7 linked regions of the Homo sapiens genome follow. The gene in region 4 interacts genetically with the main gene of each other region. Each region holds a gene or a part of one and is shown on either strand. Other genes may lie near its edges. The genes, in order: DMAC1, LLGL1, CIP2A, NF1, SYT12, PTEN and TYMS.

The links.
Region 1: changes in NF1 (region 4) and DMAC1 together harm fitness more than expected from each alone (negative genetic interaction), as found in Homo sapiens cells (one large-scale study listed by BioGRID).
Region 2: changes in NF1 (region 4) and LLGL1 together harm fitness more than expected from each alone (negative genetic interaction), as found in Homo sapiens cells (one large-scale study listed by BioGRID).
Region 3: changes in NF1 (region 4) and CIP2A together harm fitness more than expected from each alone (negative genetic interaction), as found in Homo sapiens cells (one large-scale study listed by BioGRID).
Region 5: changes in NF1 (region 4) and SYT12 together harm fitness more than expected from each alone (negative genetic interaction), as found in Homo sapiens cells (one large-scale study listed by BioGRID).
Region 6: changes in NF1 (region 4) and PTEN together harm fitness less than expected from each alone (positive genetic interaction), as found in Homo sapiens cells (one large-scale study listed by BioGRID).
Region 7: changes in NF1 (region 4) and TYMS together harm fitness more than expected from each alone (negative genetic interaction), as found in Homo sapiens cells (one large-scale study listed by BioGRID).

The regions. Positions count from the first base shown.
Region 1 is NC_000009.12:7,796,563-7,801,544, reverse strand, and holds the start of DMAC1 (distal membrane-arm assembly complex protein 1), read left to right. Parts: upstream 1-1,766; 5' UTR 1,767-1,810; coding exon 1,811-2,084; coding exon of another isoform or gene 2,085-2,096; intron 2,097-2,907; coding exon 2,908-2,972; coding exon of another isoform or gene 2,973-3,109; 3' UTR 3,110-4,982. UniProt on the Homo sapiens protein: Required for the assembly of the mitochondrial NADH:ubiquinone oxidoreductase complex (complex I). Involved in the assembly of the distal region of complex I.
Region 2 is NC_000017.11:18,231,622-18,235,894, reverse strand, and holds part of LLGL1 (lethal(2) giant larvae protein homolog 1), read right to left. Parts: intron 3,401-4,273; coding exon 3,319-3,400; intron 3,224-3,318; coding exon 3,093-3,223; intron 2,118-3,092; coding exon 1,959-2,117; intron 1,883-1,958; coding exon 1,720-1,882; intron 1,623-1,719; coding exon 1,487-1,622; intron 1,247-1,486; coding exon 1,192-1,246; intron 1,057-1,191; coding exon 902-1,056; intron 807-901; coding exon 583-806; intron 426-582; coding exon 358-425; intron 1-357. UniProt on the Homo sapiens protein: Cortical cytoskeleton protein found in a complex involved in maintaining cell polarity and epithelial integrity. Involved in the regulation of mitotic spindle orientation, proliferation, differentiation and tissue organization of neuroepithelial cells.
Region 3 is NC_000003.12:108,578,929-108,583,201, forward strand, and holds part of CIP2A (protein CIP2A), read right to left. Parts: intron 4,156-4,273; coding exon 4,049-4,155; intron 3,275-4,048; coding exon 3,180-3,274; intron 2,584-3,179; coding exon 2,487-2,583; intron 761-2,486; coding exon 638-760; intron 499-637; coding exon 353-498; intron 1-352.
Region 4 is NC_000017.11:31,339,106-31,342,976, reverse strand, and holds part of NF1 (neurofibromin), read right to left. Parts: intron 2,473-3,871; coding exon 2,332-2,472; intron 1-2,331. UniProt on the Homo sapiens protein: Stimulates the GTPase activity of Ras. NF1 shows greater affinity for Ras GAP, but lower specific activity. May be a regulator of Ras activity.
Region 5 is NC_000011.10:67,039,866-67,044,138, reverse strand, and holds part of SYT12 (synaptotagmin-12), read right to left. Parts: coding exon 3,936-4,273; intron 502-3,935; coding exon 286-501; intron 1-285. UniProt on the Homo sapiens protein: Synaptic vesicle phosphoprotein that enhances spontaneous neurotransmitter release but does not effect induced neurotransmitter release. Unlike other synaptotagmins, it does not bind Ca(2+) or phospholipids.
Region 6 is NC_000010.11:87,967,631-87,971,903, reverse strand, and holds part of PTEN (phosphatidylinositol 3,4,5-trisphosphate 3-phosphatase and dual-specificity protein phosphatase PTEN), read right to left. Parts: 3' UTR 1-4,273. UniProt on the Homo sapiens protein: Dual-specificity protein phosphatase, dephosphorylating tyrosine-, serine- and threonine-phosphorylated proteins.
Region 7 is NC_000018.10:670,607-674,592, reverse strand, and holds the end of TYMS (thymidylate synthase), read right to left. Parts: exon of another isoform or gene 3,902-3,986; coding exon 3,726-3,901; exon of another isoform or gene 3,214-3,725; coding exon 3,142-3,213; exon of another isoform or gene 1,734-3,141; coding exon 1,596-1,733; 3' UTR 1,015-1,595; downstream 1-1,014. UniProt on the Homo sapiens protein: Catalyzes the reductive methylation of 2'-deoxyuridine 5'-monophosphate (dUMP) to thymidine 5'-monophosphate (dTMP), using the cosubstrate, 5,10- methylenetetrahydrofolate (CH2H4folate) as a 1-carbon donor and reductant and contributes to the de novo mitochondrial thymidylate biosynthesis pathway.

The sequences.
Region 1 (4,982 bases), on a different chromosome or scaffold from region 4:
ATTGACAATGTACCTAGTTACTCAAGAGCTTTAATGGAAATGTACAAAGAGATTAGCATTTTCATAACTGCTAACACAACATCCATTCTGCAGCCTATAGATAAAGAAGTAATTCTGACTTTCAAGTTTTATTATATAAGAGATACATTTTGTAAGGCTCTTGCAGCCTTACAATCAGAGATAATGATTTCTCTGATGAATCTGGTTAAAGTAAATTGAAAACCTTCTGGGAAAGATTCACCATTCTGATGCCATTAAGAATATCTGTGACTCATGGGAGGAGATCAAAATATCCCTAACTGGATATTGGAAGAAATTGATTCCAATCTTTATGAACAACTAAGAAGGGTTCAAGATTTCAGATGAGGGAAGTAACAGCAGATGTGGTGGAAATAGCAAGAGAACTAGAATTAGAAGTGGAGCCTGATGATGTGACTGAATTGCCACAATCTCATGATAAAACTTGAACAGATGAGGGGTTACTTCCTATGGATGAAGAAAGTGGTTTTTTGAGACGGAATCTACTCCTGGTGAAGATGCTATGAACATTGTCAAAATGTTGGATAAAGGGCTCCAATTTTGAAAGACGTTATATAGTGGTTATTAAAATGCTATAAAACGGCATTGCATGTTGCAAAAAAATCTTTCGTAAAAGGAAGAGTCAATTCTTGCAGAAAATTTCATTATTGTCTTATTTTAAGAAATTGGCACAGTTACCCCAACCTTCAGCAACCACTACCTTGATCAGTCAGCAGCCATCACCATCAAGGCCAGACCCTCCACCAGCAAAAAGATTAGAAGTGGCCAGGTGCGGTGGCTCATGCCTGTAATCCCAGCACTTTGAGAGGCCAAGGCAGGTGGATTACCTGAGGTCAGGAGTTTGAGAATAGCCTAGCCAACATGGTGAAACCCCGTCTCTACTAAAAATACAAAAAAATTAGCCAGGCGTGGTGGCAGGCATCTGTAATCCAAGCTACTCGAGAGGCTGAGGCAGGAGAATCACTTGAACCCGGGAGGCGGAAGTTGCAGTGAGCCGAGATTGTGCCATTGCACTGGGCAGTCTGGGCAACAAGAGCAAAACTCCACCTCAAAAAAAAAAAAAAAAAAAAGATTAGGATTTACTGAAGGCTAAGGTAATCGTTACCATTTTTTGGGCAAGATGTTTTTTAAATTAAGATATATATACTGTTTTTTAGACACAATGCTACTGCACATTTAATAGACTACAGTATAAACAACTTTTATATGCACGGAGAAACCAAAAAAAAATTGCATGGCTTGCTTTATCGAGATATTTGCTGTATTGTGTTGGTCTAGAACCAAACCTGCAATCGCTATGGTATGTCTGTATCTAGCACATGATTATGCACATATAAAACCCAACTCCTTGATTCACAGGCCTCTGGATAGGAGATATGACATGCCCAAGGTCTCGCAGTTCATGTGAGGCAGGAAACTTAAGAGAGCCAGACTTCTTTAAGGAGACTGAAAGGTGATTCATTTAGTGAGTAGCGATTACAGAATTTCTAAAACAGTGGGGGCGGGGGGGGCGGCGGGGAGGAGGGCTGGAATTGTCCTCCAGCGCATACAAGGTTGTTGCTGCCAGAGAAATCCAGCAGGAAAGAGCAGCATTCTTTCACCTTTTCCGCCTCTGAAGCGGAGGAGAACTTCATTTCCCAGCAGCCCTTAAGATTCCTCCGCGCACTGCGCTAGCGTCCCGGCATTCTGCTTTCCGGCGCTCTGCCTTCCGGTGCGTCGTTTACGCCAGTTTGAACCAAAGACGCCCAAGGTTGAGGCCGAGTTCCAGAGCATGGGGTCTCGGTTGTCCCAGCCTTTTGAGTCCTATATCACTGCGCCTCCCGGTACCGCCGCCGCGCCCGCCAAACCTGCGCCCCCAGCTACACCCGGAGCGCCGACCTCCCCAGCAGAACACCGCCTGTTGAAGACCTGCTGGAGCTGTCGCGTGCTTTCTGGGTTGGGGCTGATGGGGGCGGGCGGGTACGTGTACTGGGTGGCACGGAAGCCCATGAAGATGGGATACCCCCCGAGTCCATGGACCATTACGCAGATGGTCATCGGCCTCAGTGAGAATCAAGGCACAGCACTTGGGCGGGTTGGGTATCTGCGGGGTAGAGGAAGGAAACGGAGCAGCCACGTGGGCGGGGAGGCGGGGAGGCGGGGTGCTGCCGCTGGTCAGGTGGTGGGGGCACCTCAAACAAGGTGGGAGAGGAAGTTGTTGGAACGCCTTTCTTTTTTTTTTTTTAATTTTAAGTTAGTATTTCTTGAGAACCCTTATTAGACTCAGCCCTTTTAATTCTCAGAATAGCTGTTAGAAGTAGGTATGATTATAGTATTTACTGTGGAGCAAACCGAGGCAACGAGGAGTATTGTGTTCATGGTCAGGAAATGACAGTCACTTGATCCCAGGTATATCAGATCTCAAAGCCCATACTTTTTCTCCAGGTCCTGGAGAAAGCCTGAGCGAGGGCCCTTGACCTTAATTTAAGAAATTTGCCTTGAATCCCAGATCTTTAGACGTGGATTCTAAGCTCACCTACTTGGTACACCTGGGTAATGTGGCCCACAGCCCCGTTCTGTGATCGTCAAGATGTCATCCAATCAAACGTCATGATTTTTTTAGCTTTCAAACCGATTGTCAGTGAATAGAATTTTAGGTTTCTAACTGTCTTACCTTCTTGATCCTGTATAGGTAAATTCTCCTACAGGATATTCTTTTTTTTCCTGATTTTTTTTTCTTTTTCTGTGCTTCACTTGCCTTATAAGAAAGATACAATGGTAATATATCCTCCAGAAGTGTTGTGAGGGTTAAATAAGATGGCGTATATGTGAAACACTTGGTAAATTTAAATGCAGCATAAAGGTAAGGTATTGTTGTTTTTTTTCTAGGCATTGCCACCTGGGGTATCGTTGTCATGGCAGACCCCAAAGGGAAGGCCTACCGCGTTGTTTGAAAGTACCACCAGTGAATCTGTCTTCTGTCTCTGTCCCTTTCCCCGTGACACACACAGCAGGCATGGAATTTAATGGGTGTTCTGGACAGACACTTGTACATGGACAGACATCACTACTGTGGATACTACAAGACTGAGAAGAAAATCGTATGTTGTCATTCTCTGGCTATGGAGTGTTTGTGGCCTTCACAGATTTCACAGGAACCAATAAATCCCTCAGAGAAGTAAACAGGTTCTTTGTCTTATCTGGGGAAGGAAAGTATAACTTATATTTAAATATAATTGCTTAATTAAGCATTATATATAAACATAATAGTATGTCTTATATAATTGCATGTCATATTATATATAATAAACATAAATATGTTTAGTTATATAGTTAGTATAATTTTTAAAACTTTTAAATACAGCATATGGTAAACCAACGGGAAAATTAGCTATTTTACTTCATTATTTTAAAGAGTTCTTTTTATTTCTTTCATAATTGGATCAACAACTGTTAACCTAACCCTGGGTGGGCATCATGCAATATATAGAAGTACGTGAAATTTTCTGTGTATGAATTGCTGATACTTTGCAAGGCATTTTCAAATCCATCACCTTATGAGAGCTTCACAGCTAGTCTGAGGTAGTTACTTCATTGGAGGTAAAACTTAAAACACAAGAAAGAGCCCACATGATTTGCCTAGGGTCATTCAGTAAGTCCGTGATGGAGCTAGAACTTGTTCTTGTCAGTTTTTTGTTCTAGTCTTCCCTTTCATGGAGGCAAGAATAACCATTATGAAACAGTTAGATAATCATAAAAATCAGCATACAATAAAAGACTTAAATGTCACAAGAAAAATTCAAAACCTTTAGCTAAAAAAAAAAAAGATCTTTTGATTCTTTTTCCACAAGCACTAGATATGTTTCTGTGATGATTTTGAGATAAGTACTCAAAATTACATAGTTCATTTCTAAGAGAAGGCCATGTTTTCTACCTATTGGGTTTTTCTACCCTGAGATACTATGGCTTCTTTGTAAAGGTATATAAAGTGTTTTTCAAAGCGGAAAGATACTGTTAAATTCAGCTGCTAATCATAGTGTATTTGTTTGGAATGACATGTTGAGCAGGTAGTACCTTTACGGCTGTTGCTTTTTGCAGCATTATGTGGAAGTGCCTAAGTCTATTTAGCCTCACAGATGACTTTAGAATCTTGTATTTTCTACATCAGAGTTCATAGCGGGGATGGTGCTACATATATCTATGCAACTGAAAAAGAAAACATTTCAAACCTAAAGTACGCAACAAGATATTATTTATATGAAATCCATAGCTCAGTTATGCTATGTTCATGAATAGAGAAGTTTTAAGTTGGAAGGGACCATGGATGACCCAAAGCAGATACATATGGTCATTCATATACCTAAAATACCTACAAAGACAAGTTGTTCCCTGGTTTAAAAGGCAGTCTGTTCTATTGATGGACTGCTTTAGTCCCTGAACATTTTCTTTGGTTAAACCAAAAACACATAAACCTAACTTGGTCTTGGCTTGATCTACTGGGTAAATAATAACTCTTAAATATATATACAGTTGACCCTTGGACAACACAGGAGTTAAGAGCGCTGAACATTTGCTCAGTGGAGAATCTGCATATAACCTGACTCCTCAAAAACTTAATTAGTAGTTAGTTTACAATTGACTGGAAGCCTTATTGATAACATAAAGCAGTTGATTAACACATTTTTTGTGTTGTATGTATTATATTCCGTATTCTTACAAGAAGGTAAGCTAGAGAAAAAAAAAATGTTATTAAGGAAGTAATATATTCACTATTCGTTAGGTAGAAGTGAATCATCCTAAAGGTCTTCATCCTCATCTTCACGCTGAGTAGTCTGAGGAGCAAGAGGAGTTGGTCTTTCTGTCCCAGTGGCAGAGGTGGAAGAAAATCCACAGATACGTGGACCTGCGCAGTTCAAACCTGTGTTGTTTGGGTCAACTGTATTGTAATAGCATTTTAATGTTTT
Region 2 (4,273 bases), about 13 Mb from region 4:
ACCTGAGTCACTGGGCACGTCAGCGCCCGCCAGGCCCACGCTGGGCTCTCTGGCACCTTCCCTGGGCAGCTCAGCGTGGGCCAGCCCAGATTTTCCAGTCCCAGGGCAGGCAGGCTGGGCGGGTGGAGCCCTGGGGTTTGGTAGAGCTCAGTTCCAGGCCAAAAGGCAGATCAGGGCAGCACCTTGAACCAAGGTCCAGGGAGGTTTCATTCCAAACCACCTTGGGCAAGGAGGAACTACCTGGTCCCACCAGGGGCCAGGCCTGAGTCTCCTGGCACCTCTGCACCCACCAGGCCCAGGATGGGCTCTCCCCCAACAGCAAGGGGCCCACTCACCCACATAAGCACGCACACCTACCCCGTCAGCAGCAGCCCTCGCTGTGACGGCTCCTGGGCCAGGTTTCGGCCCCCAGTGATGGGCCAGCTCTGGGAGGGGGTGGCAGAGATGTATGCACAAGGTTAGGACGAACATCTTCTCCCTCTCACCCCGAGTATGGCACATTCTGACCTCCGGGCTTAGAACTGAAACTCTCCCCCTCCTCAAGACTCCACCCTGTAAGACCCCCCTGATCGCCGCACACACCAAGGCACTGGAGACAGGCTGGGGGCTCTGCTGCTCGCCAGCGCTCACAATGCGGGCCCACAGCTTGGCGGGGACACTGGCCACGTGGGCCGAGCAAGTGATTGCAGAGGAGTGCAGCGGGGCCAGGTATGGGGCAGGCACAGCTGGCCAGCCAGGAGTCTGCAGGTCCAGCACCACCAGCTCCTCTTCCAGCAGCACAGCCAGGGCCTGGGGGTCATCAAATTCTGTGGGACGGAGGGAGTATGGGGTGAGCACAGCCATAGGTGGCAGAGGGCACCAGGTGGGGCTGGGAAAGGGTAGGGTACGGCAGGGCACGCACCATCCTCGGGCCGTGTGCTGTGCACTGTGAAGAAGTCGATGATGCGGGAAGTGAAGTCCAGCGTCACCAATGTCTCGGCTCGAAGCACACTTACACAGTGGCGGTCACCATAGCTGGCACGGGGCATGCCACCGCTGAAGATGATAAAGTGGCCCCTATGTGCAGAGGGAGGTGTGCGAGCCATGAACCACTTGGGTCCAGAGCACATACTGCACAACCTAGGGAGAGCCCACCCTTCCAGCCCCCTAGCCAGACCCAACTCACATCGGACACCCACTCCCTCGACCTACCCAGATTCACAGTTCCGCCACAGAATCTTGTTAATGGCCTTGCAGGGAAAGGGGCCTGAGGGGTGGGACAGCGTCAGACCAGACTCACTGGTGGTTCTTAGCAATTCTGCCATTCCTGCTCTGCCCTCCACTGCTCTCTACCTTACAGCTGCCTCCTGCCTCCCCGGGAAGTCGGCGGGAGACACACTGCCCCCAGACCACCCCCTCGGGGAAGTCCCTCCTCAGCCAGTTTGGCTTGGCTCAGTGGTGCCCCCTCCCATCACCACCCTCTGGCTAAGGTGTCCCCAGCACTCACCGTAAGGTGTGGTGGCTACCGTGGGCTGCAGCGTTGGGAAGCTGCCGGCATCCACAGACCAGACAGCATAGCTGCCATCGCTGTGTGAGCTGACCACAGTGCTGCTATCACGCCCCCAGCATAGGCTCTCCAGCTGCTGCGGGCAGGCAGGGGCAGGCAGGCAGGCAGGCATGAGCCATGGTGGGCATGCACAAGGGGCCCAGGCTGAGGGGACACAGGCCTCACCTACATACCTGGTTCCCCAGGAAGATGTGGTCCACACACTGCGAGGCCTGGTTCCAGATGACCAGCAGGCCCCGGCTGTAGCCAATGAGAATCTTTGTGGGGTCCCGCAGGTGTCCCTGGAGTGACTCCACGGGGCCCAGTGCCTTCCCACAGCGGTAGTCGTCTGGCACGCTGTGGAGGAAGGCAGGTGAGCCAGCAGAACTTCCCGGGCACACAGTGGGTGCTGGGAAGCCCACCGGCCTCTTACCTGCGCAGAACCTCGCCTGGGGCAAGCGTCTGCCCCTCGAGCAGGGTCAGGGTGGTAACATCCAGGAAGAAGACACTGCTGCCCTCAGTGCCCAGGGCTGCTATGTCGCTGGCAGCCACCAGCAGGACCACTGTGACTCGGGTAAGGCTGAGCGGAGCACTGCAGGGAACAAGGGGAAGGGAGTGAGGGTACAAGCCCATCCACCTGCTCAGGTGGGGTGTGAGGGGCTGGGCCACTGCTGATAACTCATCACTGGCCCCACAGCACTCACCAGGGCCTACTTACAGAGCCACCCCAGGAAGACATGCATCATCATCAGCCCGCTCAATTATTCATCAGGATGTCAGCAGGGAGATGGATAAAAATAGGGTCCCTAGGTCTTGCAGACTGGGCTCCCAGCTCCTCCCACCCACCAGGAGAGGACAGCAGGAACCAGGGCACTGCCCAAGCCAGGACCAGGAGCTCCCCGCTGAGCCCCTCCTAGGAATCCCGCTGCCAGCGCTCAGACATCTCCTGACTTCGCAGGAGGGCCCCAGATACCCCCATCTGCAGAAGCTGGGAGGCATCAGGAATCCATCCCTGGGTTGGTACTCCCCTTTTCCAGCTATTTCAGGCAGGGCTGGGGAGAGAGATGCCCCACACTCTCACTCAGCTGGGGCATGCTGCCAGCGCCTTACCAAGCACAGCCCATGGGACCCTCCTTGCCCTCAACCCTGCCTATGCACAGAAAGGCCTGTCTCCCACCCACAACTGAAGAGGCCAGGGGACCCTTCCTGTTACTAACTGGCTTAGGCCCTGCCCCAAACCCCTAGACACCCCCATCATTGCAGTAAGTGTAGTGCCAGGCCTCAGGTCCTAGAAGTTTGGCATATAATGCATGTACCTCCTGCTGCTCACAATGTTAATTACCTGCTCACGTCGGACTCAACCCAAACCTCCCATTTAACCTGAAAAGTTCAGAGTATACCTCAGTAAAGCAGGGTCCAACAGCTGCAGCCTGGGACCCAGGCCCAGCTCAAGGCATCCCGCCCTGAACCGCTGCCCATCTCCATGCTGCCTTTGCACAGCAGGTTCCCACAGCCTCCCCCAGATCCTCCCTGCCCGGTGGCTGGCCCCAGCCAAGTTCTCCAGTACCTGGCACCATCAAAGCCGGGCCGGCTGGGCAGCTGGAAACTGAGTGCTTCTTCCAGGTGGGCACAGCCATTATGGTGGACAATCTCCCAGAGATGCAGACTGCTGTCATCAAGCAGGGACAGGAGGCGGCCCTGGTGTGTGAGCAGAGATGAAAACTAGGCTGGCCTAGGGGGATGAGTAGATATGGGGGCCACAGGGAGCTGGCTAGTGGGAAGCAGAGGCTCACCTGGCCGGTCAAGAAGTGCATCTGTGTGACAGTGGCTGCATCCCGGTGCAGGCCTGTGAACTCCACGCCAGGTGCACCATAGCTGAGGGTGGCAGGTCAAGGTGGAAATAGGCATAGACCAGCAAACCACAGTGAGGAAGACACCCAAGGCTCCTCCTTGACCCGGACTATTCCAGTGGGCCCCGGCATGGGCCTGACCATCCAGGAGTCCTCCCTGAAGAACGGAGGCCCCCTCCCTAAAGCTCCCACTCTGCACCCCTACAGTATCCCCAAGATCAGTGTGCAGGCTCCACTCACTCCTGCAAGTCAGGTGCTGCTATAGGACCTTCACTTCCCGTAAATTGGGCCAGTGACTCCCACTTTACAGGACTGTTGCAGATCAAGTGAGAATAAACACACCCAGCAGGCTTGGCCTCAGCCTGGTGAGAGGATGGGGCTCCGCTCCACTTCAGCTCCGTGTGTCTATGGGTTCTGGGAGCTGCGCCTTGCCGGATGGGATCAGGCAGGCCAGAGGTGCAAGGCCAGGCCTGGACAAGAAAGCCAGGGGGCAGAAGAGTCCAGGCTGCCTTTTCCCACAGCTTCAGGCCAAACTTCAGCCATGGGTAAGAAAACCCACCTCCTCTGGGCACGGTGGCTCGCTCCTGTAATCCCAGCACTTTGGGAGGCCGAGGCAGGTAGATCACAAGGTCAGGAGTTGAGGACCAGCCTGGCCAAGATGGTGAAACCTCGTCTCTACTAAAAACGCAAAAATTAGCCGGGCATGCTGGCAGGCACCTGTAATCCCAGCTATTTGGGAGGCTGAGGCAGAGAACTGCTTGAACCCGGGAGGCAAAGGTTGCAGTGAGCCAAAACTGTGCGACTGCACTCCAGCCTGGGCAACAAAGAGCAAGACTCCATCTCAAAAAAACAAAACAAAACAAAAAAAACCCACCTCCCTCCAAAGCAGGCAGCCAAC
Region 3 (4,273 bases), on a different chromosome or scaffold from region 4:
ATTTTTATTGTTCCTATAATAAAAATACTCTTTCAAATAATCGTAATGCTACTTACGTTTTAAAACTGGTTTTAAAATAAATTAGCCAAGATGTCTATATTTTGGAGAATGGCACAACCCTATTGATCTAAAGCAAAGACTGAAATACACACATAGACAATGACCTGTTATACTTTCCATTTCAGTTCAGGAAAGAAAAAAGAGTGTGAGTAAAGCACATCAAAACATTTTAGTCTACTGTGAATCAGTAGAATCCAAGTTTATTATATTTTAAGAAGACAATTCTGTTTATAACCAACACATCTTGGTTTAAAAATAAAAAAGTTCTAAAATTGACTGAAGTGAGTCATACCTGGTGAGATAATCAGCAATTTTAGGATTCTTAAGGAGATCCATCAGTAGGTCAACTGAATACTTTCTAGTTAGAGTGCCATCACCGTTTATGAGAATATTAAATATTAGTTGAAAAGTCTGATGAATGTTTCGAGCATGGAATAGCTTAAGGACAAATTAGAAAAAGCATATTAGACAAAAAATTAAGTTGACACCATCCTAAAAGGTAAAAATAAAAAAGTCTCAATGACTTTTAAAATATCAGACTATAAACTTCAGAATAAATTTGAAAAATTGTATTTACCTTTTCCCCCACCTCTTCATTTAATGTCAAACTGGATAATATTGAAAGTGCAAACACAACCACAGTTAAACTACTATGGGCCAACAAGGTGATAAGAGTTCGATAAAAAGATTTCACATTACTCTGAGGAAAAAAAAGTTAAAAAATAAATTAGAATTATAAATTTTATGTTTTGGTTTAAAAAGTATATCTTGCACAGAGTGGGCAAACTTTTATTAAACATCATTATCAACTCTATTAAATGATTGTTGCATTTAAAAGATAAATGTTCTACAGGAGAAATTTAGATCAGAGATAAATTTAAATTCAAAAATTGTTATAAAGAGAGTACCTACAGAAAAAAATAATTTGGTAAATGCGTGCAAACGAGTTGGAGATAAATATTTCCAAAGTTTTGTCACCTTAGAATAAATAATTCAATGATGGTAAATCAGGGTGTCAATTCTAATAAAGGGACACATGCAGAGTGGAAACAAAAGAGCTACCTTAAATACTGCAGGATTTGTGTTAACAAAAGAACTGTAGCATTTGTTAGCATTTGTGTTAACAAAAGAACTGTAATGAGGAACTCTCATAATTGTGGTGGAAGCAAAAAAAATTCAGCAAATTTAAGAATTTGTTTTACGTTACACACCGTGGAGCAGCAATTAACTTTGCCATATTTGCTGATTAGCATTTAGATTTAAGAGATCACTGCATGTGTGAGCAAGATGGGTAGTTTCGTATATTGCTGACAGTCATATAGATAGCCACAATCTTGGTGAAGAGCAGTTTCTACACATGAAACTATGAGCAAATGTTTATTCTTCCTTATATTTAAGTGTTTCCTAAATATGAACATATGAACTTTTTTTTCAATTCAGAAATTGAAACACACACACACACACACACACACACACACACACACAGTTACTCCACCTCCAAAGTAAGACCAGGGCAGAAAAATGTAGCACTTGAACAAGTGAGATATTAAATTTAAAATCGAACGGGTAATGCTGAATAGCACAGCAGGGAAATTGTTCACCAAGCACCTTAAAGAATCAGTGACTTGCTTGATTTAATATACTTTGTTTTTTTTTTTAAGGATGGAGTCTTACTCTGTTGCCAGGCTGGAGGGCAGTGGCGCGATCTCAGCTCACTCCAACCTCCACCTCCCGGGTTCAAGCAATTCCCCTGCCTCAGCTTCCCAAGTAGCTGGGACTACAGGCGTGTGCCACCACGCCTGGCTAATTTTTTGTATTTTGGTAGAGACAGGGTTCACCATGTTGGCCGAGATGGTCTCCATCTCCTGACCTTGTGATCTGCCTGCCTTGGCCTCCAAAGTGCTGGGATTACAGGTGTGAGCCACCATGCCCAGCTGATTTAATATACTTCTAAAAGTGATTCAGTTAAATTCATTTGTGTGTCTTCATTTATCACAAGTACTGTTGGTTCATACTGAGCACTTAACTCATGAATCTTTCTGGTGGGGTTGCCATTGATTTTGTGGAAACACAAGACTGAGATAAATGGGACTGCCAGTGATGTGCCTCCCTTCTAAGAGCACAAAATAATTTAGTAATTCTTGTACTACTCAATGTAATAAATAATGGGATGCCATGCTGAGGAAAACTTTTAGAAATAAGTGTTTGCATTAACCCTTAACACACAGTCTTCAATACAACATACACGAAGGCTGAAGTGCTTCAAGTTATTTGTATGTCAATCTGACTCTTAATTTTGATGGGTCATCCGATAAGACACAGAATCCTTGTTCAAATTTGTTTTAAAGAAAAAGATAAATACAATTTTCTTTAAGCAGAGAATCTACCATAAAACAAGAAACATTAAAAAGAAATAAACTTCTTACCAATGTCTTTATGTGCGTTTGAACAGAAAGATTGTGCCGACAAAGATTTGCCAATAATCCTAGACAAGGCATTTTTAACTCATCTTCAGAAGATTGACTGTTGTTTTACATTGGTGTTTTGTTTAAAGAAAAAATAGTAAAAGAAAAAAAGCATTAACATTATTCTAAGTCAAAATGATATAGTTAAGTTTATACATTTCAATTCCCTTTTACACGCAAAAAAAAAAACTAATTAACATAAGAAGCCAGGGAAGCTTTGAATAGTATTGATCATTTATCTCATTTTAAAACCAAATTACCCTATTCAATTCCATCATGAAAACATGGAAGTAACTGTCAGCGTGGACCATGTGCTGTTTCATCAGTATATTTTCCTACAAGAATAACTACACAATTTTCAATTTCAGTAATTTTTTTCTGGCCAAATCAATTCAGTCCATAAATTTTTCTTATGAAAATTAAAGTTGCTTTACAATTTTTTTTTCCTTTTTACATTTTTTCACCAATGAATGAGGTCACATACTTTTACAACTTTTGATCCTTAAAATCATCTGGGCAGAACAAATAAGAATCGGAGTCTCACTCAGTTTATATGTTAGAAAATGTTATCTAAGAAAAATTAATCTACCACATGGTTGTAATTTAAAAATAAACAAATAAACTATTTGGTTTTATGTTTGATTGCATACTCACATGTGATCTATCAGGAACGTAATTAATTCATCTATATTGGCACCAGAATAGAAAATTTTGACATTATATGTTAACTTCTGTAGAAGTTGAATGCACTGAGAATAAGAAAATAGTTATAAATATAAAGATATAAAAACATTGCCTGCTTAAAATAATGGACTCTCAGGCACATTCTGAGCATGTCCTTTTCCATTTCCTAAAACAATTTTTTTAAAAAACACATGTAAAGTAATGTAAGAACCTTAGGGCTCTTCTCTCAATTCACACATTTCTACGTATTCTGTCTCAGAGCATGGTTATCAACCTTGTTCACTTAGTCATCTTAAACTTGAATGCAGTTTGAAACACACATGTAGTCCATCAATTAGAAGATACCCTTCTTCACATTTTATCACCTCTAAAACTGCATGTCAATTTAATTTGTGATGTTTTTCTTTCTTACAATTGATGACATTTTAGAGTCAATGAAATATGAAGAGCTTTGAATCTATATTAAATAGACTCTATCTACAGCTTTAATTTTTGTAGAACGTTTCCTCCACAGATTGAGACTAGATGCCAACTCACGTTACAATTTTAATATAAATAGCTTATGTCTCAAAACACAGACATCTGTGTTTATAAGTCAAAGCAGTTATAATGTAGATTTGTTTTTCTTCAATAGTGGTGATAGAAATGGATAAGCTTCTCTTCTCTAGAAACATTTAAATTGTATGTGTGCAACCAGCTTTTAATGAGATGAACTGTGCCTAATCATGTAGTATTTATTATATAGCATATATACACTGTAAGTCAGCAGTTTATGACAGAAACTATCAATTTTGATCTGACAGTAAGGAAAGGGGAATACACTGTGTGGGTCTGTATACCTGCAAAAACACCGAATCAGTGTGGCTGCTCCGACAAACCACTCCCGCCAGCACACTATTCAGATTATATGTATTCTGAAGACAATCTCTGGTTTCAATGTCTACTGCTATAAGTTAAAATAAAAGCACAAAATATATCATTTTCTTACAAGGTTTTGCAGATAATTCATACAGAATTTATTTCATATGAATTTATTATTAAAAAAGGTATGATATGGCTATTTT
Region 4 (3,871 bases):
GTTCACACAGTAGCTTTCTTTAAAGGCTCACTTAATTTTGTGTTCAATAGTATGACAAGATAAGTAATCCTTTCAATTTGAGAGAAATTATTTTCAGTTGACTGCAGAAAACCACAGAACATTTTAGCTACTACAAATTAACTGGTGCAAGACAGTCAAGCATATAAATAAGAAGATGGTGGAAGATGAAATCACTTTTATTTACAATACAAAATAAATGACTGTCAATTTACATCCCGGTGACTTTTAACATGCTTATTAACTCTGATGCCTAGCATCCAAAGGGCACTAGAATCAATATTAGCTCCCGCTACTGGGCTGTTTTGAAGATGAAAATACCGAGGCAGATGCCCCATTTGCAATGCTCCATTTGCAAATATTCTTTTTTTGAGATGGAGTCTTACTCTGTCGCCCAGGCTGGAGTGCAGTGGCACCACCTTGGCTCACTGCAACCTCCTGGGTTCAAGAGATCTTCCCACCTCAGCCTCCCAGGTCGCTGGAGTTACAAACATGTGCCACCCTGGCTAATTTTTGTATTTTTAGTAGAGACAGGGTGTCACCATGTTGGCCAGGCTGGTCTCGAACTCCTAACCTCAAGTGATCCTCCCAACTCGGCCTCCCAGAGTGCTGGAATTACAAACATGCGCCATTGCACCCGGCCAATTTGCAAATATTCTTAACATATAAATAGCCAACAACTAGATATCGCTGACCACCACTGTCCCAAAACAGTTTTAGAAAAACGGCAATGAGAATTAGGACAGAGGGGTTCTAGTCCCAAAACAGATGTACAAGCATGGGCAAGTTACTTAACTTCTTAGTTCCTTTCTAATTTGCAAAATGGAGGTCTGATTAATAAACTCCATAAGACCTCTTACCTCTAAAATTTTGCTTCTATATTTTTCAGACCCATATCTGTTCCAGGTTCACACTACATCTGGTAGACTGAACTAATAATGTTTAGACCAAGTATCTTTTTACACTTAAAACCATAATCCTGTTCTTTGTACCCACAGTTCAGTTAATTTCACTTCAAGCAAATCTCACTGTATATACACATTCTTTTAAAAACATTCCCCTCTTTTCTCCTAGACCCTTCCCATTTTTATCCAAAGACAAAAGGGACGTAATTTCATACTATTTTATTCTCTCCTCTATTCTCTATGAACTAAAATCCAACCCCAATTAGATCTCCATTTTACAAATTAGAAAGGAACTAAGAAGTAATTTGCCCATGTTCATATATATATACACACACACATGCACACGTGCACACACACACACACACCCCATTAGCACCCCTCCTAACATTTATTAACCTTAATTGGAGTTGGATTTTACATATTTTATGTGTGTACACACACACACACACACACACACACTTTATATATATATATACACATACATTACATATATATGTGTGTATGTAATATATGTATACACACTTTTTTTTGGAGACAGGGTCTTGCTCTGTTGCCCAAGCTGGAGTGCAGTGGCGTGATCTCAGCTCACTGCAACCTCTGCCTCCCAGGCTCAAGCAATCCTCCTACCTCACCTCCCGAGTAGCTGGGATTGTAGGTGCATGCCACCATGCCTAGCTAATTTTTGCCTTTTTTGTAGAGATGGGGTTTTGCAAGTTGCCCAGGCTGTTCTCTAACTCCTGAGCTCAACTGATCCACCTGTCTTGGCCTCCCAAAGTGCTGGGACTACAGGTATGAGCCACCACTCCTGGCCACTAATGGTATATTTTAAAGTAAGATTAGACAGAATAAAAAAACTAGTAAAATTAAGTACCCAAAAGTTTCCTTTAGACTCTCCAACTTCCTTATCTACTATGAATTATACGTATTTTTCATTAAGTGGCATTATTAAGTAAAACTAAGATTACTTTTAGATTATTTCTTCACGTGTGAAATGGGGGGCAGAGAATGCTAACCTTTACCTTAAGGTTATGAAAATTAAAAATAAATGTATAGTGTTTAGCATACGGCCTGGCATGGTAGCTATTAATATTATTACCATGTATTGTTTATGCTCATTCTGTAAGGATGATCATGTATTATTTATCCTTATTCTGTAATTCTACTAGTATTAGGCCAGTACTGTTTTTTTTTTGTTTTTTTTTTTTTGCTATTTTTATGTAAAAAATATGCATTCAAGTTTACATAGTTCTTTATGAGCTGGTAAGGAAATATACTCACAATAAGTTACATTATACAAATTCCTACTTAAGTTATGGACTTCTTGTGATTTTAAAAGAATAGCAACAAGAAAAGATGGAAGAGTACTAAATTTGAGTAATCTAGGAACCTCAAGGCAAAGTTTGCTTACCTTGTCATTGAATATACGGAGACTATCTAAAGTATGCAGGTTTTGTTCAAGAAGTGCGGTACCTGCTGAATACAAGTTGACCTCATCAAGCTGCAGCACAGCCACAGCTACCCAAAAGAGGGCTTTGTGCAGAGGCGAGTCCTGGCAAAGAAGATATGTTTGAGGCTAGTAAGATGAATCATGACATAGTCTCTTTCAAAACACACTGCAGTTAAAAATAAAGCAGCTTATCTTCCTAAATTACCCATGTTTTCTCTTTTGGGGAAGATAAAGATATGAGTAAGCTCTTCACTTTTCCATATGTATAACTAAAGACACTGTTAGCTGGACTGAGAACGTTACTTAGCACCTCCTTTGACTTCTCCCTGTTCTTTGATTTCTAAATCCAGTCACCAAGGTTTGTTGATTCTTCTAGAGTAGTCTCTTTTGTATCTTTTGTCATTTCTTTCTTATTGCTAATGACATTACCACATGCCAACCTTCTTTATTATAAAGGTGGATTCTTTTTACTTCAGTTTCTCCCTACTCCAATCCACTGTGCACACTACCACCAGGAGCTAAGTCCTGCTTTCATCGTATGACTTGTCTGCTTAAAAACTGTACATTTCCAAACTCTTTTGAACAATGCTGAATGTGAGATGAGGTCTATCCAGTCCTCACAACTTTCCCTCTCTCGATTCCTTTGAAAAGCTTCTCCATTACAACTAGAATGTTCTACCCACCTTCCCTCCATTGTCCTGGCATTCTTGTGCAGCTCTCTCCCTTTCTCTCTACCTACATTAACTCCTATGTTTCCCTTTAACTTTATTTTAAACTGTCTTTTCAACTTCTTGTCACTCTTAACCAGTATGGTAATCTCTTGCTGCTCTGAATTAAAAGTATTTATTACTGGCAATCTTTACTTAGCACTGTGATATTAGGGAAAATACATGGACTTTAGAGTCAAATAGTATCACATTAGAATCATGGTTCTTTTATTAGGTATGTGACTTTGGGCAAGTTATTTAGCCCTTCTGAGCTCATTTTCACTTAGAAGATGGGGACCAGAGAACCATTTTGTATAATACAAAATTAGAATGCTTGTAGACAAACCAGGAATATAACAGGTATTATTTCTCTGTTATTTCTCCCAAGTCTGGCATACCTTTGTACTCAAATCACAGAATTAAACCACTTTAGAACTGGATGGTAATACCATGCCATTATCGAATCTTTTTCATTTTATTAATACAAAAACATGATTTCCAGATATCTTAAATATAAAAATGGGATAAGGTCAGACCATCCTAAAACAGTGGCCACTTCATTTTACTCCTTTTAAATATAATCTTCATTTGGCACCCAAACTCTTATGACGATCAAGTATACTTCTCCCAGCTTTAATTTCTCCATAGTAATAATCACTAACATACTACGTATTTTGTTTACTTCATTATCCATTCACTCCCCAACCTCCACACCCACCCCAGAAAGTAAGCTCCATGAAGGCAGTGAGTTTTATGGGCTTTGTTAGTACTCTATCTCTAGCGCCTAAAACAGT
Region 5 (4,273 bases), on a different chromosome or scaffold from region 4:
TCTAAGGCTAGAGGAATGTTTCTCTAGCAGAAGCTCAGTAGGGGTAGAACCTCTGAAGCTTTGGTGGCAAAGCAGCAGACGAGCTGTAAACAGTGGTCGGGATGTTTTTGAAATTTGCCTGCAGCAAGCAGTTTCCTCGGATGTGGCTCAGGTCTTCTTCTCTGCTCTCCTAATGATGATGGGGCTCAGGCTATTGCAGAGGATGATGAGGATGATGGAGTCCCTTCCTGGAAGTGTATGTGTGTGCACGCTCTTCCGAGGTGGACGAGCAGGCAAGTCACTTACCTTGTTCTGGTCCTGTAAATAGAGCCAGCCACTGAAGGGCTGCAGCGGGAGGTCAAGCACAGAAAGCTTCAGCTCCACCACCCCCGTGCTGACGTTGCGCTCATCCTCATCGATGCCAAATACAGAAAACCGCAGGCTCTTCTCCTCCAGGGCTGTGGGATCCAGGGGGATGGAGAACTTCTCATCAAAGAAGATGGAGTAGGCATTTCTCTGGATCTGCAGGAGAAAAGGCCATGGAGGGCGCTAGGGGCCTGAGAGGCCACAGCAGGGAGACAGCACTGGACAGGGAGTCCAGAGGCCCAGGCTAGAGTCCTGGCTCTGTTGTCTTGACACCCTCAATGCCAATCTTTCCTTTGGTGGCTCAGCCTTGAAGGTTTAAAAGCCTCCTGTCCTCTCCTCAGTGGCGGCCAATCTAGTGGCCTGGCGTTTTAAGCTCCCACAATCTGATCCCAACTAATTTCCGTCCTCAGTGCCCGTGGCACCCCAGAACCCTCAAGATGCCCTGGACGAGCTGGTCTCCATCTTTCTTGCATCTGTTCGAGTCTAGCCCTAGGCCAGGCAAGCAGTGGAGTGGGACAGTTGCCTGTGGAGTCACGAGCCACTGACGTCCCAGGTTCCTGCAGAGCCTGGCCCAGGACTGTTTGAACACCGTAGGCTGGATGGGTGGATGGAAGGGAGGACTAGGCGAGGTTGGGCCAACTCGGTTTCCAAGCCCAGTCCTGCCTGGTGGGCACCACTGACCTCCTCCCAGGAAGTTGTGGGCAGGCCCCCTGGGAAGGTGCATTGCGGGCTCTGTCTCTGGGGAATAAGGGGGATGCTTTAGTCACTGCCTGGTGATATTTAAAGAAAGGCGCTCTCATCCCTGGACCCTGCCTGAGGCTGGGGGGCTGCCTAGCCTGGGGGCAGCACCCCCTGGTGGGATTGCCCAGGCTGTTAAGCTGGGAAGCTTGCCTTCCCTGGAATAAATCCCCCAGCGCCACCGGCCACCATGACCACACTCTTCTGTCACTGCCTGGGTGTGGGAAGGCTCCTCGCACAGTGCTCACGTTCCCTACACAATCCCCTGCTCTTGAAGGGCTCCTTGCCCCCAAGTGATAAAGCCCACCTGGCCTCCTGACCTCCTGACCTCGGCATTCAGGCTCTTCATGATCTGGCTCTGCCTCTCCCTCCTTCGGCTAAATTAGCCTCTCAGCTGTCCCCTGCTCATGGGGGCCTGGGCTCCCCAACCAGCCATTCTCTGAGCGTGTGCTTTATGTGCACATGGGTGGAGGAGGATGGAACCCTGGGTTTGAGTCCTGGACCTCCTGCTTCCTTACTGGCGTTGTCTTGGGCAAAGCACTTTCCCGAGCCTCGGTTTCCTCATCTGTAAGATGCCCTAACAATCTGTCCTGTTGGCGTCAGGGGCTAATGAGAGAATCATGGATGCACTGGGCTCTGTGAACCAGGTTCTCAGCACACATCAGGCTGTGGCGGCTGCTGTCTGCCAATGTCTCTCCTCAAGGAATGCGTCCCCAAACCACAGGCAACATGGCTGGGCACGACAGGAGCTCTGCACGGTCCTGAGAGCCAACCTGCTAGGCACTGACCCAGGCTGGGCTAAGAACTTCACATACATTAACCCATCTCTTCCTCAATAACCATGATGCCCATTTGACAGATGGGGAAACGGAGTCATGGGGTACTAAACTGACTTAACCAAGATCATACTGCTAGGAAGAGGTGGAACAAGGATTTGAACCCAGGCAGTCAGGCTCCAGGGTCCTGCTCCTAATCGCCCACTATACTGCCTCTCAGAAGCTGGGCCACCCCAACTTGATGCCCTAAACACGCCCTCCTCGCACTCTGCTCACAGGCTATCCCCACCCTTCAGCCCAGATGTGGCTCTGTTGGCTTGGTTCTGTGAGTTACAGCGATGTGTGGAGGGTAGCCTAAGGGACTGGGCACCTTCCCTGCCCCTCACGCTTTATTCTCCACCCTTCCCCCCTCTGCTCTGGCCCTGAGAGTTGACCTCCATGGGCTGTGTCAACAGGTTCCCTTGGCCTTTGGCTTCTGGTTGGGTCAGCCAGTGGAGGTCACCAGAAGGAAACTGGAGGGGGAGGGAAGTCCCTCTCTGCAGTATTGTTGCGGGATGACCATGTCCCTTGGCCAAAGGGCAGAGCTTCCACCAAGGTAGCCCTCTCCACACAAGGTGGCCCTCTATCCTTTTGGGCCCAGTAACCTCACCTTCCCCTCACCCCTTCAGATCTAGAGTGGGACAGCCCCTCCTGTTACGCCCTTCCAGGGTACCATGCCATCCCTGAGGCTGCCCCACACCCCATCCGCACCACTCTAAATGGTCTTATTATTTTCATTTTTAAAATTTATTTATTTATTTATTATTTTTGAGACGGAGTCTCACTCTGTCGCCCAGGCTGGAGTGCAGTGGCATGATCTCGGCTCATTGCAACCTCCGCCTCCTGAGTTCATGCAATTCTCCTGCCTCAGCCACCTCAATAGCTGGGATTACAGGTGTGCACCACATGCCCTGCTAATTTTTGTATTTTTAGTAGAGACGGGGTTTCACCATATTGGCCAGGCTGGTCTCAAACATCTGACCTCAGGTGATCCACCTGCCTCAGCCTCCAAAGGGCTGGGATTACAGGTGTGAGCCACTGCACCTGGCCCTATTTTTATTTTTTGAGATAGGGTCTCATTCTGTCACCCAGGCTGGAGTGCAGTGGTGCAATCGTGGCTCATTGCAGCCTCAACCTCCTGGGCTCAAGTGATCCTCCCATCTCAGCCTCCCAAGTAGCTGGGACTATAAATTAGCTGGCACTACCACAGCCAGCTAATTTATTTTATTTTATTTTATTTTTTTTGGTAGAGAAGGAGTTTTGCCATGTTGCCTAGGCTGGCCTTGAACTCCTGGTTAGGCTCAAGCAATCCTCCCACCTTGGCCTCCCAAAGTGCTGGGATTACAGGCATGAATCACTGTACCTGGACAGTCCTGTTTTATTTTTATTTATTTATTTATTTTGAGACAGAGTCTCCCTCTGTCGCCCAGGCTGGAGTGCAGTGGCACGATCTCGGCTCACTGCAAGCTCTGCCTCCCAGGTTCACGCCATTCTCCTGCCTCAGCCTCCCGAGTAGCTGGGACTACAGGTGCCCGCCACCACGCCCGGCTAATTTTTTGTATTTTAGTAGAGATGGGGTTTCACCGTGTTAGGCAGGATGGTCTCGATCTCCTGACCTCATGATCTGCCCGCCTCGGCCTCCCAAAGTGCTGAGATTAGAGGCATGAGCCACCACAACCAGCCCCAGTCCTGTTATTAAGCCCTCCCCAAATTAGCCTTCTTAAGCATGTCATCCCTTTTCTGCCGGGACCCCATGTTGACACAGGGCAGATGTGGACAACGACAGTTGCCACATTCTGTATTCACCTGGTGGGACCGCTAAGAACTCCACACAATGGGAGCCTTCAGGTGGAGCCCCCCACCTCCCAGCTCTGTACAGAGCTCCCTCTACAGTCTGAAGCTTCAGCTCTGGGATCAGCATCCATACTTGCACTCTACTGCCTTTCTGGGATCCTGCCGGGCCCCACCGCCATGCCTGCCTGGGAGGCATCTAGTGAGCCCAGAGCACCCTTCTGCCCCGCCCTGAGCCCCACTTACCCGAGAAATGCCCACGATCTGCTCGTCCGGCAGCAGGCTGACGCGCATGAAGCAGGACTCGAAGCTGGCCTCCTCCCGCTCCAGGAGGTCCTTGCCCTGCATCACCGCCACGTTCAGCGTGTGGGAGGCAGTGTCGTACTCCATGCTCACCTCCACCTGGCCCAGTGTGAAGTCCTGCCCAAAGGTGTTGCTCACGGAGGAGATGGAGTTCAGGGAGTCGGCCGACTGGGACTTCCGGAGGGTCCCATAGGGGGCCAGGTCCAACTCCCGGCCCATCAGCTCCAGAGGCCCCAGTTCACTGATGCTCTCAAAGGTGTCCTCAATGCTGAGACTGCCTT
Region 6 (4,273 bases), on a different chromosome or scaffold from region 4:
TTTTAAAGGAAAAATACTCTCCATAGGAAGGCATTTCTATTTTTTGTCCATCAGTAGCCAAATGGAACTTGATATAAACACTTCCAGTATGCCAACTTTGGTTTAATGCACAACTTTGAAAATAACTCATTAAAACACACATCAAGATGCTACTAACAAATTCATTAATATCCAAGATTCATTACTGTATGTCAAAGGTCATCCAGGATTAACATTTTCATTACAATGAACTGTGAAATTCCAATGAAAAATGTTTGCCTGAATTAAATTATTTAATCTCTCAAATTGGAAGTCTAGCACTCTTGAAAATCAAATTCACACACACACAGACACACACACACACACTTACAAACTGCACATTAGGACATGAGGGCAATTTAATGGAAAAAGAAAATAGAAACTGAAAGGGCATTTGTAAAATGTAGGATATCATTTGGACAACTGGATAGAGTAGGCAGAAAATCCTAAAGGTGTACATAAAAAAATAGCCAGTAAATGATAGGCTACAGAAAACCACACTGAAACATTTGATGAATTTCACTGCAGTAAACAGACTTGGCAAACTGAAACACTAGAACCATGACTACAAGCCTCACTTCATTCCACACAAATAAAATCTCTAACCATTATAAGCACAGATGAGAATCCTCATGCAACAGAGGAAATATAAATTATTTTTAATTTTAAAAAATAAAAAATATAAATTCTTGTTAAACACTTGATTTAAAAATATGCAGCTTTATTTTTAAATGTAGTTATGCTCAAAGATGGCAGTTTACTTATATGTAAAAATGTTTTAAAAATATCAATATATTGGTTTATAAGTTCTATACTGCCCTCAGCTAAATATTTTTCACCAAAATTCTCAAATAACTATCAAAAAGAGTTGCATGTTTTTATAAGCCCACTATAATTACTAAACGCGGTAATTTTCAGAGCTAAAGGTGAATCATTAATGAAATATTTTTTGATGTGATAAAAGTCACATGAGCATTTGAATTTAAAGACAACTGATAAGCCAACAGCAGCCTTTTTTTGGCAGGTGTTAAATTAATTTGCTCTAAATTGAGCAACTGTTTGGGAACTACAAAAACTGAAAAGTTCAAACTATAAGGAAGTAGAAAGGTGATGAAGTTTACTAATACAGTGTTTCACACATTCTATTTAACACAATTCCAAATGCAAATGTTTAAGATGATTTTTGAAGAGAAACATCTACAATGTTAAGCTTGTCTATGCTAAACAAATGTAACTTTAATTTACATGTATCATCCTAATGTCAACAATATTTAGACATTCATGATTAAGCCACTGAATTCGAAAGGATTCTCAATAACTACATGTAATCTGCATCTGTGGCATTAGAAAGTAATCAAATCACTGTCCGTTTTCTGATGCAATGGAACATCCTACAAATTCATGACAGATATACTAAGCTAAAAAGCTTTGAGATCAGGTACAGTATAAATTTCATTTTTAAAGAATATACATGGATATACAGAAGAAAACATGATTGTATAGTCACTAACATATTAACGATGGCTATGTCTCCAGGTGATAGGATTATGAGTGATTATTTTATTGTTGTTGTGATGGGGAAGTAGTCTCAAAATACCTAGCTTAACAACCAGAGTACTACCACCAAAGCAAACTATTTTGTCCTTTCCTGTCTTCACATTACAAACTTTTTAAAGCTACCAACCAATATGAATTTGTCTGACTGGCTACCCACATTCTGATATACATATTAGAAGGAAGATCTTTTGGAAGATGGAAAAACAGCAAGATTATGGTCATAAAAGAATAATATGCTCTCAAAAATAAGCAACAATCATTAGGCTTTCTATAGCCACATACAATTAATTCTATAAGAAAGTTGGCTCCAACATTTCATCTTTAAAAGACTTTTTCCATTATCCTGTTTCCTGGTTTTCAGGTACTGTCCTTACAACAGTTTGGACTGAATATTCTTGTTTCCATTCACAAACATTTCTTTCTGAACTAGCAACAGCACTAATCAATAGCTACACTTAAGCCATTTAAGACTAAGCTTTAGATGTGTGTCTAATTATCTGGCAAAAATAAAAGAACCAAAGAGTTTCATGTTAGCAGCAAATTAACTAGATTTAAGGGTCTTGATTTTTTTCATAAGCCTTTGGAAGCCTGCATATTAAACACTGGTGAGTTTTAAATTCTCAATGGAAATGGTGATGGCATTTACTGAACCAAGCCAGCTCATATTACAACGTACAAAGGACATGATATAAAAACAAAACTAGCACATTTCTATTTTTCAAACATCACCAAAATGTCTTCTTATAAATTAGAATACTTTTAGACTCCAGTATAGTTTTCAACCATACGTATACCCAAGATACCGAAAAATAAAATGTGTGTACACATACACTTCATATTTTACATTATTGCACATTTTTTCATTTACTTTTTAAAAAATTACATGGAGAAAATGTAAACTTGAAATAATAAGTCCCACTGTAACATTGTCTACTTTATTTTTTTAACACTTGTACAAACTACACTTTCTTATTACCTTACTATGCTTTGTTGAAAGGATATGCTTTAGTCTTCAAGCTTTTAAGAATATTAGAAACAACATGATTAAATTCAAGTACAAAAAGTCCTTTAGACTATTCCGAAATATCAATTTTTATATGGCACAAGTCATGATGAGTAAATGAAGCTTTCCATATGCTGATGGCAGAGTACAGAATAATAGACAAAAGCCACAAAATTGAAATCTAAAGTATCAAATCCATTCTGGGGAATTATCTTCAAACATCTGTCATAATAAAAATATGCACAATTTTCTAAGAATCTTGGACTTTTTCAGGACTAGAACGCTATTTAATGTGCTTATACAATTTATGAAGTGATGACTAAAGCCCTAAAAATAAGTGTTTTTCCTTAATTAAACATGAGTAGACAGATACTCTACTCTCAGGCCATGTTTTTTTTTTTTTTTTTTTTTAAACAGTAGGCTTTGAAGGACAGCAGGAAAAAAAAAAACTGAAAACTTTGTATTCACATTTGGCTGCCCATTAATTAAAACTTCAATGGACTTAAGCAATTTGAATTATAAACTCTCATTTAATAAAACACCCACACAATGACAAGAATGAGACTTTAATCAGTTTTAAGTGGAGTTTATAACACTAAGAGATAAAGGGTTGTTAACAAACACAATAACAAATGGACATCTGATTGGGATGAGGCATTATCCTGTACACATCATATTGGTATTTTTGTGTATCCTCAGTGCATAGCATTTACACACAGAGCCACTGCTGCACAGCACAAGAGTATCTGAAGAGGCTGAATCAGAGTAAGGCTGTTTAACAGACTGAAATTTTTTAGTATATATATTCTATATGAAAACAGGTTGAACTTTTGAACTGGCAGGTAGAAGGCAACTCTGCCAAATACTACAGTTAAAGCCCCCACTTTAGTGCACAGTTCCACCCCTTCCATCTGCATGCATGACACATTAACAGTATTTAAAGGTAAACGAGGCACTTTGTGGCAACCACAGCCATCGTTATGAACATATTGCACAAAATTTCTAGAACTAAACATTAAACTTGTACCCTACTTTTATTTTTTAAAGCTGAAACATTTGATGCTGCCGGTAAACTCCACTTAAGTTTATAACCTGTGCCACAGCAAAGAATGGTGATGCTATTTATTCAACTACCCTTTTAAAAGTATGGCAAACATGTTCAAGAGGAGCTACAAAGGACTTGGGATGGTACAGGGCCCAACTGTAAGCTTTCTTAAAAGTGATGCCTTCAAGTAACTTCAGACATGTAAGCTGCTGCACATCCAAAAAGTCTAAGAAAATATTCCAGAAACTCAGAGATTACCTACAGAATGCATTTCAGGCTAATTATGAATACTGCCATAAATAAAGTTTTAATTAGGACTCGAAAACCTTTCAGTCATAGCAATTCTTGTCAAATTCTATGGGGATGGTAACTGAAATAAAGTAAGGAGAGTATGTATAATATATATTTATATATATAATATATATAATGCCATTTTTCCATTTCCAATGACTACACCATAAAATGTAAGCAAGGCTTCTCAAAAACATTGAAACATTCAAAATCAAAACCCTCATTCAGACCTTCACATTCCAAAGGAAAAATAATAACAGTGCAAAAGCCCATTATAATGTCATTATTTATGACCTGGCCCTCCATGTTACATATTGGAACAATAAAGTTACGTTTTAATATGCGGTGCCCGAAATTGT
Region 7 (3,986 bases), on a different chromosome or scaffold from region 4:
GAGCCAAGATTGCGCCACTGCACTGCAGCCTGGGCAACGGACAGTGACTCCATGTCAAAAAAAAAAAAATTAATTAATTGCCTCTGGCTTAGACGTAAAAGCATTTCTTGGAGCAGCATAAATGCATAAAATCTGTTTTTGTTCCAGGTGGTTGTTAACAGGACTCATTTTTTTGGTCTTTGATAGGATCCCGGCTACTCAACAGAAATGAAGGAGGAATCTGTAAAGAAACACCAGTATCCAGATGGTGAAGTTTGGAAGAAACTCCTTCCTGCTCAAGAAAATTAAGTGCTCAGCCCCAACAACTTTTTTCTTTCTGAAGTGAAAGGGCTTAAAATTTCTTGGAAATAGTTTTACAAAAATGGATTTAAAAAATCCTACCGATCAAGATGAGTTCAGCTAGAAGTCATACCACCCTCAGGAATCAGCTAAGTAATTATTACTTGATTCTTTTAGCAAATCAATGCACGTTATCCTACTTAATCCTTAAATAAGTTTAGATTTAACTAACCCAAAGTCCAGGAGGATGTTCTTACAAAAATAGCTATATCAAGGGCTGGCACCTAGACATTAAACTGTAATTTGAAAATAAGCAACATGTTGCATAACTTGTTGGAATAATTCCTTGTTCTGTTTAACACTTGTCATAAATTAGCAGAATAAAAATAGTCGTGCAACACCGGGGGTATCTGGTATGCAACGAAGGGAAAAATATTTCACTGATTAACCCCGAAGTGGTTTTGCATCTTTTCCTTGCTTAATCTAAGCATATTATTAGAGAAGTCACACCATGCTGAAGCTAATGAGGGCAAAATGGTAGTCCATAGATTATTTTAAAATAACCCTTTAAGGTTATAAAAGTTTAAAAAAAAAAAAAAAAAACTCTATCCTAAATGGTCATTATATTTTGAGGATAAGATGCAGTTAAAATGAGAAAAATAGGGCAAAATATATTCACTATTATTTCTAAAATATACTCTTTTAAGTAGCATCCAAACCAGAATACAGCACATGTTTACTTAAGGAGAGTTCTTTAATCTATTTTAGGAAGGAACTGAGCAGATAAGTGGCAGTACAGAATGAACAAAGCGTGGACGAATGCAGAACACTTCTTTATTATAGCAACATATAAAACAACTATAACTTTAAAGTTCATAACCACACTCTACATCATGATCGATGGTGTTACTCAGCTCCCTCAGATTTGAGGGAATAGCTTGTGAAATTCTTAAAATATTCTAAAAATATTCCAAAAATAGCTTGTGAAATTCACCAACCTTCTTTATAAGTACGTGGGATTGAAATGCACATACATGTTTTTGCTAAGAGCACATACATTTCATTCTCCTCACTTTGTTCATAACCTCAGCATTGTCAGATACCCTCAGTGAGTTAACTCAAAGCCTTTTATTATGGAAAGAACTGGCACAGTTACATTTGCCAGTGGCAACATCCTTAAAAATTAATAACTGATAGGTCACGGACAGATTTTTGACCTAGTTCCTTTTTCTTTTAGAGCAAAAAGAACTTTTACCTCGGCATCCAGCCCAACCCCTAAAGACTGACAATATCCTTCGAGCTCCTTTGAAAGCACCCTAAACAGCCATTTCCATTTTAATAGTTGGATGCGGATTGTACCCTTCAATCTGAAAGTCTTCAGCTTTGAAGTCATCAATTTTCTCAACTTTTCGAAGAATCCTGAGCTTTGGGAAAGGTCTGGGTTCTCGCTGAAGCTAAAAACAAAATAAGGCCATTATTTTGCCATAATTGTACGACCTGTTGTAATTGCTCCTCATGTCCGTGAAACAAGTACACAGGATGTGATCAACAAAGTTCTATTTTACAGGAGTATGATCCTGTCGATACCTTGCCGTAGGTTATGTAACATGATTGGAGCGCAACCAGCTGTTCTCTTGCACAGATCGAGAGTGAGGGGTATTTTGTGACATTACACAGCATCAGGAGCCTGGTGCCTCATCAGGTGTAAGTTCTTATAACCACTCTTGGCAAATTTATTAAAGACAGGAACACAGTCAATCTGTAACTCATAGTAGCTCTACGTTTACTTGAATTCCACAATCCCTAACCCATCTGTCCCTGGCAGAAAGAAGGAAAGATGACATGCATGGACAGTGAACAGAAAGGGATGAAAGCCAGGATTCCTGGGATGAACAGACAGTGGCAATTAGGATGTGAAGACAGGTCACAACCTATTACTATGTCTAAAAACGACCAGAGCAGAGAGCCAGAGAGAATAAGCCTGAAGTCACCTCCACTCAAAAGCAGCCAAACTCCCTCAAAGGAGTAACTTTTAAAACCTGGATCTAACCTGGAAGGGGCTAAAAAGTGTCTGGTTCTGAGTTTTTTTCCTTAAGGCTCATGAAGCAGATGAACTTACATTTTTATTGCCATTTCATATCAATTGTTGGCTGCTATAACTTAGGGATTTCAACAGACTTTTGAAGTTTGGACCTAAATATTGTACTTAATGTAAAATTAACAAAAAATATTTATGGCCAGGGTGGTGGCTTATGCCTGTAATTCCAGAATTTTCGGAGGCTGAGGCAGGTGGATCACTTGAAGTCAGGAGTTTGAGACTAGCCTGGCCAACATGATGAAACCCCATCTCTACTAATAATACAAAAATTAGCTGGGTGTGGTGGCATGTGCCTGTAATCCCAGCTACCTGGGAGGCTGAGGCAGAAGAATTGCTTGAACCCGGGAGGTGGAGGTTGCAGTGAGCTGAGATCGCACCACGGCACACTCCAGCCTGGCCGACAGAGAAAGACTCCATCTCAAAAAAAAAAGAAAAGGAAAAACATTTGCACTTCAATTCTCCTTCAAGTTAAAATGAGTTAAAATGCCCCCTTTTGGACAATCCCCTGGCTTGAATGTGGCTCTTCCCTCTCTGGTACTGGTGCTTAGTACCTCACAGCACCTGACATGTTAAGTGCCCATGGTTGCTGAGGCAGATGCCTGCCTTGTCCTGCCCACCTGCCCACCACTTCTCCCTAAACTGAAGCCCCACATTTGGAGCAGTCATCTTTATCTTGGACACAGCATTGAGCAGATGCCTGTTCCACAGTCAACCTTTTATCAAGAGAAGGTACCAAACCCAAAAGTATAACATCTAATTCTTACCTGAATTTTCAGTGGCTCGATGTGATTCAGGTAAATATGTGCATCTCCCAAAGTGTGTATAAAGTCACCTGGCTATAAACCCGGGGGAGAAAGCAGAACAGTATGTTAGTTTCAATTCTTTAAAACATCATTTAAAAACATTAGAATATGCAGACACCGCAAGGCTTTTTTTAAAAAAATAATTTAGTGTAGCTTTTCCATTTTTTTGTAGCAACAGCATCTTGTTATGTTGCCCAGGCTGGTATTGAACTCCAGACCTCAAGCAATTGCTCCTGTCTCAGTCTCCCAAAGTGCTGGGATTACAGGCATGAGCCACCATACCCAACCTCAGCATAGCTTTTGAGAAAATCCATAGAAGCTGTATCACAAACAACCTGTATAGATCTGTTAGTGCGTATACCACAGGGCCAGAAAACCTTCCAGAAGAGGAAGGTTTCAAAGTAAAAGCTGGTTCATTTCTTACTTACACATATCAAATTTAAAAGCTAATCAGAGACTAAACTCTGCAATTTGTTTTCCCATATTAAAGAACTGAAGAGCTCAGTGTGGTAGGCTGGCAAGTCACCCTTCCCGAGACAGCCCACCTTCAGGCCCGTGATGTGCGCAATCATGTACGTGAGCAGGGCGTAGCTGGCGATGTTGAAAGGCACACCGAGGCCCATGTCTCCCGATCTCTGGTACAGCTGGCAGGACAGCTCACTGTTCACCACATAGAACTGGCAGAGGGCATGGCATGGAGGCAGCGCCATCAGAGGAAGATCTGAGGAACCAGCAGAGGAAGATAAGGAGGGATGGTGGTTTGAAAGACCACAGCTAAAGGCAAAGTAAAACAGGAGAGAAACAGA